2 linked regions of the Homo sapiens genome follow. The protein of the gene in region 2 purifies or fractionates together with the protein of the main gene of each other region. This does not show direct contact. Each region holds a gene or a part of one and is shown on either strand. Other genes may lie near its edges. The genes, in order: SEZ6L2 and TAFA1.

Region 1 (3,819 bases), on a different chromosome or scaffold from region 2:
CCCGCACACACAGGTAAGCATGGATGTACACACATGTGCAGGTCATCTGTCATAGGTCCTAACAAATGCAGTCGTGCGTGAATACAGCCCCCCTTTCCTGCCCCCAGAAGTCAGAAGGATCTTTAAATTGCAAATCTGAGGCTTTCACTTTCCTGCTTAAAACATTTCAGGCCAGGCACCATGGCTCACGCCTGTAATCTCAGCACTTTGGGAGGTCAAGGCAGGAGGATTTCCTGAGGTCGGGAGTTCGAGACCAGCCTGACCAACATGGAGAAACCCCGTCTCTACTAAAAATACAAAGTTAGCCGGGAGTGGTGGGGCATGCTTGTAATCCCAGCTACTCAGGAGGCTGAGGCAGGAGAATCGCTTGAACCCGGGAGGCAGAGGCTGCGGTGAGCCAAGATTGCGCCATTGCATTCCAGCCTGGCCAACAAGAGCAAAACTCCATCTCAAATAAATAAATAAATAAATAAATAAAATTCAAATTAGGAGGCCTGGCGTGGTGGCTCATGCCTGTAATCCCAGCACTTTGGGAGGCCAAGGCGGGTGGATCACTTGAGGTCAGGAGTTCGAGACCAGCCTGGCCAACATGGTGAAACCCCATCTCTACTAAAAATACAAAAATTAGCCAGGCGTAGTGGCAGGTGCCTGTAATCCCAGATACTGGGGAGGCTGAGACAGGAGAATCATCTGAAGCTAGGAGGCAGAGGTTGCAGTGAGCTGAGGTCATCACCACTGCACTCCAGCCTGGGCAACAAAGTGAGACTCTGTCTCAAAAAAAAAAAAAAAAAAATTCAAATATCTGCCTGTCACACCTGCAGGTTGAAGTAGTCTGGACTGCTTACTGAAGCAGATAAGGCTCTTTATGGTCTGAATCTGACCTGCCTCCCAGCCTGGTCTCTGGCCCATTTCCCCTTCACCCGCTTCTGTGCTTTGAAAGTAATAGCAGTGACTGACAGTTTTGAGCTCTCACTGTGTACCACACGCTGTTTGTGTTTTTGTTTGTTTGTTTTTGAGACAGAGTTTCACTTTTGTCACCTAGCCTGGAGTACAATGGCGCAATCTCAGCTCAATGCAACCTCCGCCTCCTGGGTTCAAACAATTCTCTTGCCTCAGCCTCCCAAGTAACTGGGATTACAGGTGCTTGCCACCATGCCTGGCTAATTTTTGTAATTTTAGTAGAGATGGGGTTTCACCATGTTGGCCAGGCAGGTCTTGAACTCCTGACCTCAGGTGATCCACCAGCCTTGGCCTCCCAAAGTGCTGAGATTATAGGCGTGAGCCACCACGCCAGGCCACACACTGTTTTAAACACTTGACATGTATTAATTCATTTGATCTTCCCCATAATACTAAGTATTGTGATCCCTATTTTTCAGATGAGATCATGAGGCACAGAAAAGTTAAGTAACTTGTCCCAGGTCACACAGCTAGGACAATTCTATCTTCCATGCTGAATTCCTTCACCTCATCTGGGGGTCACGTCTTCTCTCTCTGGGTCTTGGAGTGTGCTTTTTCATCCACTTAGCCATCTGCCTCCCTCCTTCTCTCCCTCCCTCCCACCCTTTCCCTGGCGAATTTATCCTTCAGGTCTCAGCTTAGTCATCATCTCCTCCAAGAAGATGTCCCCATATTCCTTGGGAGAAATTTAGGTCCCTTGGCTATGTGCTGCCCCCGCTGGTGTTTCTGCCATCATATTCCTTATCTCCTTGAATTATAACCATCCTGATTACTCATCTGTCTTCCTACCTAGATTCTGAGCTCGTTGAAGCCAGATTTACACCTGGTTTGTTCATTCCTCCTTCAAGGCTAACACAGGGCCTGGTATGAAGCAAGCACTTGATAAACATTTGTTGGATTCAATGGATGAATTGTCCCTCGGATGTGTGCACAGATCTGTGAGTGTGTGAGATAAGTATGCATGGGTCTCCTCTGAGGGCCCTGCCCCCCAGGGTCGCAGTCAGGAGGAAAAGCCCCCTTCGGCACCCTGTGCTTCGATGGTTCTTAAAGATGTCCCCTCTATAGGCCGGGCACAGTGGCTCTTGCCTGTAATCCCAGCACTTTGGGAGGCTGAGGCAGGTGGATCACAAAGTCAGGAGATCGAGACCATCCTGGCTAACGCGGTGAAATCCCATCTCTACTAAAAATACAAAAAATTAGCTGGGCATGGTGGCGGGCGTCTGTAGTCCCAGCTACTTGAGAGGCTGAGGCAGGAGAATGGCGTGAACCTGGGAGGCAGAGCTTGCAGTGAGCTGAGATCACGCCACTGACCTCCAGTCTGGGCGACAGAGCAAGACTCTGTCTCAAAAAAAAAAAAAAAAAAAAAGATGTCCAGTGTATGCAGTATGGCCCCTGCCCTTCCAGCAGCACCCTCAAACTCCTCACCCTGATAGTGGATCCTGAAGCCACCGCCCCTTGGGACCCGTGGGCTCTGGAAGTGCAGAAGCAGCCGGTTGGTTGGGCTCCGAAGGACTTGTCCTTCTCCAAGCATGGATGAGTTGGCCAGGAGTCGGGGGGCCAGGCCTGGGGATCCCCCACCAGCCAGCACCAGGAGCTCCTCTTCCTGTGACAGGTTCAGCGTCTGCACCTAGAGAAGCCAGACACAGACCCGCCAGGGCAAGTCAGCCAGGTGTTTGACTTCCAAAGCCCCTGTCCTGTGCCTTTGCCCTGTGTGTAGCAGCCCAAAAGGCACCACGCTGCTGCCCAAGTTGTAGAAATCTAGAAGAGTTTTTGAGGTCACCTGAGTCATCAGACAGGTTCTTTGGCTCCCAGGCCAAACCCGTGCACACCCACAGCCCAGAGGAAAAGGCTTGGAAGCTGCACAGTCACATGCTTTGGTCCAGTTACCTGGATCTCAATGCCGTAGCCAGGGTAGACATGGATGCTGTAAGTGCAGTCCAGGAGCCCCAGGGTGCGGCTGACGGGGCTCCCCAGATCTGGAGACTCCACATACCCTTCGCCCTCGGAGATGTTGTTATTACACAGAACTGAGGAGATACAAATGGCTGGGATGGAAGGAATGCCTGTGCTTTTGCCCTCCCAGCCAAGCAACTCTGGCCTTCATCTCCCTTCTCCTTAGCACTTCTCATCATCTTTTTGTTTTGTTTGAGACAGGGTCTCGCTCTGTCACCCAGGCTGGAGTGCAGTGGTGCAATCATGGCTCACTGCAGTCTCAAATTCCTGGGCTCAAGTGATCCTCCCTCCTCAGCCTCCCGAGTAGCTGGGCCCACAGGTGCACATCACCATGGTGAGACAATTTTTAAAACTTTTTGTAGAAATGGGGTCTTGCCACATTTCCCAGGCTGGACTCAAACTCCTGGCCTCAAGCGATCCTCCTGCCTTGGCCTCCCAAATCACTGGGATTACAGCTGTGCGCTGCTGTGCCCCCCTCACCATCTTTTATTTTTTTATTTTTATTTTTTTAAGATGGAGTTTTGCTCTTGTTGCCTAGGCTAGAGTGCAATGGCTGGATCTCAGCTCACCACAACCTCCACCTCCCGGGTTCAAGCAATTCTCCTGCCTCAGCCTTCTGAGTAGCTGGGATTACAGGCATGCGCCACCACGCCTGGCTAATTTTGTATTTTTAGTAGAGACAGGGTTTCTCCATGTTGCTCAGGCTGGTCTCGAACTCCCGACCTCAGGTGATCTGCCCGCCTGGCCTCCCAAAGTGCTGGGATTACAGGCTAGAGCCACCATGTCCATCACTATCTTTAAGCAATGCTCCCTCTCCCACCTGAGCCAGAACTCCCTTTCCCAACTGTTATATAGCTGAAACAATTGGAACACTGCCTGGTACATAGTAAGGGTACAGAAATGCTA
Region 2 (3,819 bases):
ATTCCAAGGCTGTCCAGTAACTACAGGGTTAATATCTAGCTAGCTGGGCCTTTCTGCCCTGCTCCAGCATAAGGGTGCCAATTTTGATGGTTTGGATTACCCCACCCTGAAGATTGTTATTTATTTAGAAGATCACTCCTGATTTAACCAAAGAAATCAAAGAATGATGTATTCACTCCCCAAAACCCTTTTCAGTTCTCTGACGGATCATCACAGAACTCTTTTAAAGAACATTAGAAAATGGCTTCTGTAGGTGTACTTAAACGCAGACCCTTTCAGCAAACCATCTGGATGAATTAGGGAGGAAGTTCATTTGATTATCATTCTGAGCATTATAAATGTTGGATGAATTATCCGAATAATTACCTCATGATTCCTCTCCACTCTGGCTGGAAACCCAACTTAATTTATGAGTCTGTGACAGAAACACTAAACTGCTCAGTGTGGGAAAGTCAAGTTCAATCTCTAACGTCTCATTCACGGATGGACACTGATCTGCATAGTTCAGAATGCTTTCTGTCAGTGGAGAATCTTCTCTCCTGTGCAAAGCTTCTGTGGATGCTGTTTGCACAGCACAAACTCAAATAGTACAGTCTGTAACATCCAAAATACATTTGAAATAAGTGCACTTACTCTCGTGGTCTTAATTTTGTTGCCTGTTGCGCACATCCATCCAGAATTGTCAGGGAGTGTCTTACATTCTTCTCCTTCTAGGCAAGGCTCCATCTCACACCACCATTTCCCAATCACTATGGAGGCTGTGCAGAAACAGGAAACAACTGTGTTTGCAATTCATCCAAACAACCTGAACACTGACGTTGTGTCCCTCTGCAGATTTTCACGTTCTTGGAAGCACACTAAGTTCTCTTTAATCCTCCATGACTAGCTAAGAAAGCTCTATTAAAAAAATAAGATTTTAATTTATATGCCTTATAATGCAAATATAATTATGTGGACTGGTTTCATCAAGCAGCATTTTTGTTGGGGATTGAGACTGCCTTTTCAAAATTATGACAGTAAGAGAAACCTAACATAGCTGACTCCATCTTGCTTCTAACATCCAAGCTATCTTTGGTCATTCCTGGGCATAGGCTAAGCTAACTTTGGGAGGAATTTAGTTTAAACTTAAAGCAAGGATAATAATAACCCTTCCCAAAAGTAAACTGCCTTTGTAAAACTAATGAAAGGCCACAAAGTTAGGACTATGAGAGGGGGCTGAATTCTCTTAAGATATAGAAGTAGTTAAATGATAATCAGCTACTGTTCTGGAGGCTGCGAGATTTGTAACTTTTCCAATTATTCCTGTAGATAATATCACTATTGTAGAACTGAAAATTGACTGAGATTTTTTCAGACTTTTGCATTCTAGCAACTGACTCCACTGAGACCCACACACTCAGGACCCAACCAGTCCTGTGGCCCCCACCTGGAGGCTGACTTAGCACATGAGAACTGTTTGCCACACCTCTATCATTTCAACCCCAATCAACATTCCCCATTCCCTAGCCCCCTGCCCACCAAACTACCCTTGAAAAATCCTAACCTCGAAGACTTCAGGGAGCCTAATTTGAGTGATAACTCCAGGTTTCCCACGTGACCAGCCTTGAGTTAATTAAACTCTTTCTTTACTGCAATATCATGGTCTCAGTGAATTAGTTTTTGTCTGTACAGTGGACAGGAAGAACCCACAGGCAATTAAAACAATCTTTTTGTTTTTATGCCAAATGCATATGGAAGAGGAAGACTTATGAAGGAAATAAAAATATTTTACTCCAAAATATGCTTCTTTGACATAGTGTGAGACGGCTGTTCAGAGAGTCAGCAAACAGAAGTAGTCCAGCAAAGTTTTCTTTCATGGGGGAGATTTGTATCTATAAAGAAAATCTGCACTGATACAACCAGGCTTTCTCTGAAGCCCCCATTGTCCAGTCTAGGAAAAATTAACTGAGAGTCTGACACTTTTAAAGGCCTAAAAGAAATATTTACCAGCTATTTTCTCTGAGGGCTGCTACCTGTGAGACCAACGTTGCTAGCCAGGCCTCCTTTTCTCTCCCTTCCCTAACCTGTCTTGCCATATAACCTGATTTACCATCATAACCTGTTTTGGGCCATGCACTGAGTCCCCATTCTTTATGAAGTTTCAAGATAGTATGTAAGTTTTTATATGCCATTAGGGGGTTAGTGTAATCACTGTGATTCTCCCTCATGTACACATTAATAAATTTGTATGCCTTTTCTTTTATTAACCTGCCTTTTGCCCATTGATTTTTCATCAAAATTTCAGAAGATGAAGGAGTTTTTCTTTGCCCCCTACACTTAATTTTTGGGTCTTCAGGAACTTTCGTGCTCTTAGCTTTTGTAGAGCACAGATCTTGCACTATTTCTATTCAATGAAGGGGACAAATGCCTCAATACTCTTCAGAATGACTGAGGCATTCTTCTCAGAAAGGCAAATTTATCCACCAAGCATTAGGGTTTATCGCCTAGCCTAGGGCCTTGAAGAATTTCAAAGGCCTGGCATAGAAAAAATGAATTGACTGAAAGTACAAAAGAAAAGTTGCAAAATAAAAGTCAAGAGTAATATTAGATAAAAATATATCCTTACCATCAAGAGTATAGTTGATATGAGTTGTGGTTACCTTTTAATATGTTTAATATGATGTGGGGGGAACTATCAAAAGTTGAGCCTCTGATAAAGCAGCCCTAATTTTCAGGGGAATATCAAGGATGACCACAATAGGAAGCTGGCAATGAATTTAGTGTATGTACTAAATATTTACAGCACACATTTTCTGATAACAAAATTTTATAAAACCAGTGACTAGATTCACTCAATGCAAATCAAGAAACTCTATATTTCCCTTAATGCCTTAATTGAAAAATGATTTCTACACAAGCACCAGTCATTTCTGTAGCTCCTCCCTGTGTTAGCTCTTCCCAAATCCACCTGGGCATTTCCCATTCAGAATCCTCAAAATGTCAGCCAGGTGTTTGTCTTACGATGCTTTCTGGTTGGCTGTTTTTACACGGGACGAGAACCCTCGTTCTTTACTCACTCCCCTCCATCCCCCATGTTCCAAAGATGCTCTCCACCATGATCTTTAAGTCTCACAACACAAAGAAGCCAAATGACATATGATAATGTCACAGAGGATTAACATTAAAACGGGATGGAGTAGACCCTGAAGCAAAGCAGGAGCACATTAAAATTCTCTCTCTATCCAGTATTCACTAGAGGGATGAGATTGCTGACTTAAAAGCAGAATGGTTTAACCATCCAGACATCTCTCTGCCCTTAGGCTTTCCTTCTATGCTTTTCTTACTTCAGTCTTCCCCTTCTTTAGAATTCAGTGTTCCTCAATCTTTACTTTGAATAAAATTATTATGTAGTGAGGAAAGAAAAGAACTTTTATGTGAGGAATGTGAGCCTTTTCAAATTATTAGGCCCAGGGAGGTGTAAAATGAGATAGCAATCACACCCTGCTTCCTCTGTTTTGAGACACACATTCATCTAAGGAGATGGCTTGCAATTGCCACAAATAGCTATGCATTAACCTAATAATGCCTCAGTGGACACCATATCCCATGCCCTATAGCTTAACAATGGATAGCCAATCACTAATGAATGTTATTTCTGTAAACCAATGAGAGTTCCTAACAAAAACTTTCCCCCATCCCCATTTTTCCCCCTTTAAAAACCTGCTTTTAACTATGGCCAGTAGAGCTCATATCCAAGATTACTATGGTCTGAGTCTTCCAGGCAGCTATCCTTATTTTGGTTCAAATAAACTCTTCAAGTTACATTTTGTGCTTCAGGCT

Evidence for each region.
Region 1: the proteins of TAFA1 (region 2) and SEZ6L2 purify together in Homo sapiens (affinity purification with mass spectrometry; one large-scale study listed by BioGRID and IntAct). This does not show direct contact.

The regions. Positions count from the first base shown.
Region 1 is NC_000016.10:29,892,874-29,896,692, forward strand, and holds part of SEZ6L2 (seizure 6-like protein 2 isoform 5 precursor), read right to left. Parts: intron 2,988-3,819; coding exon 2,848-2,987; intron 2,588-2,847; coding exon 2,386-2,587; intron 1-2,385. UniProt on the Homo sapiens protein: May contribute to specialized endoplasmic reticulum functions in neurons.
Region 2 is NC_000003.12:68,535,695-68,539,513, reverse strand, and holds part of TAFA1 (chemokine-like protein TAFA-1 isoform 1 precursor), read right to left. Parts: intron 759-3,819; coding exon 634-758; intron 1-633.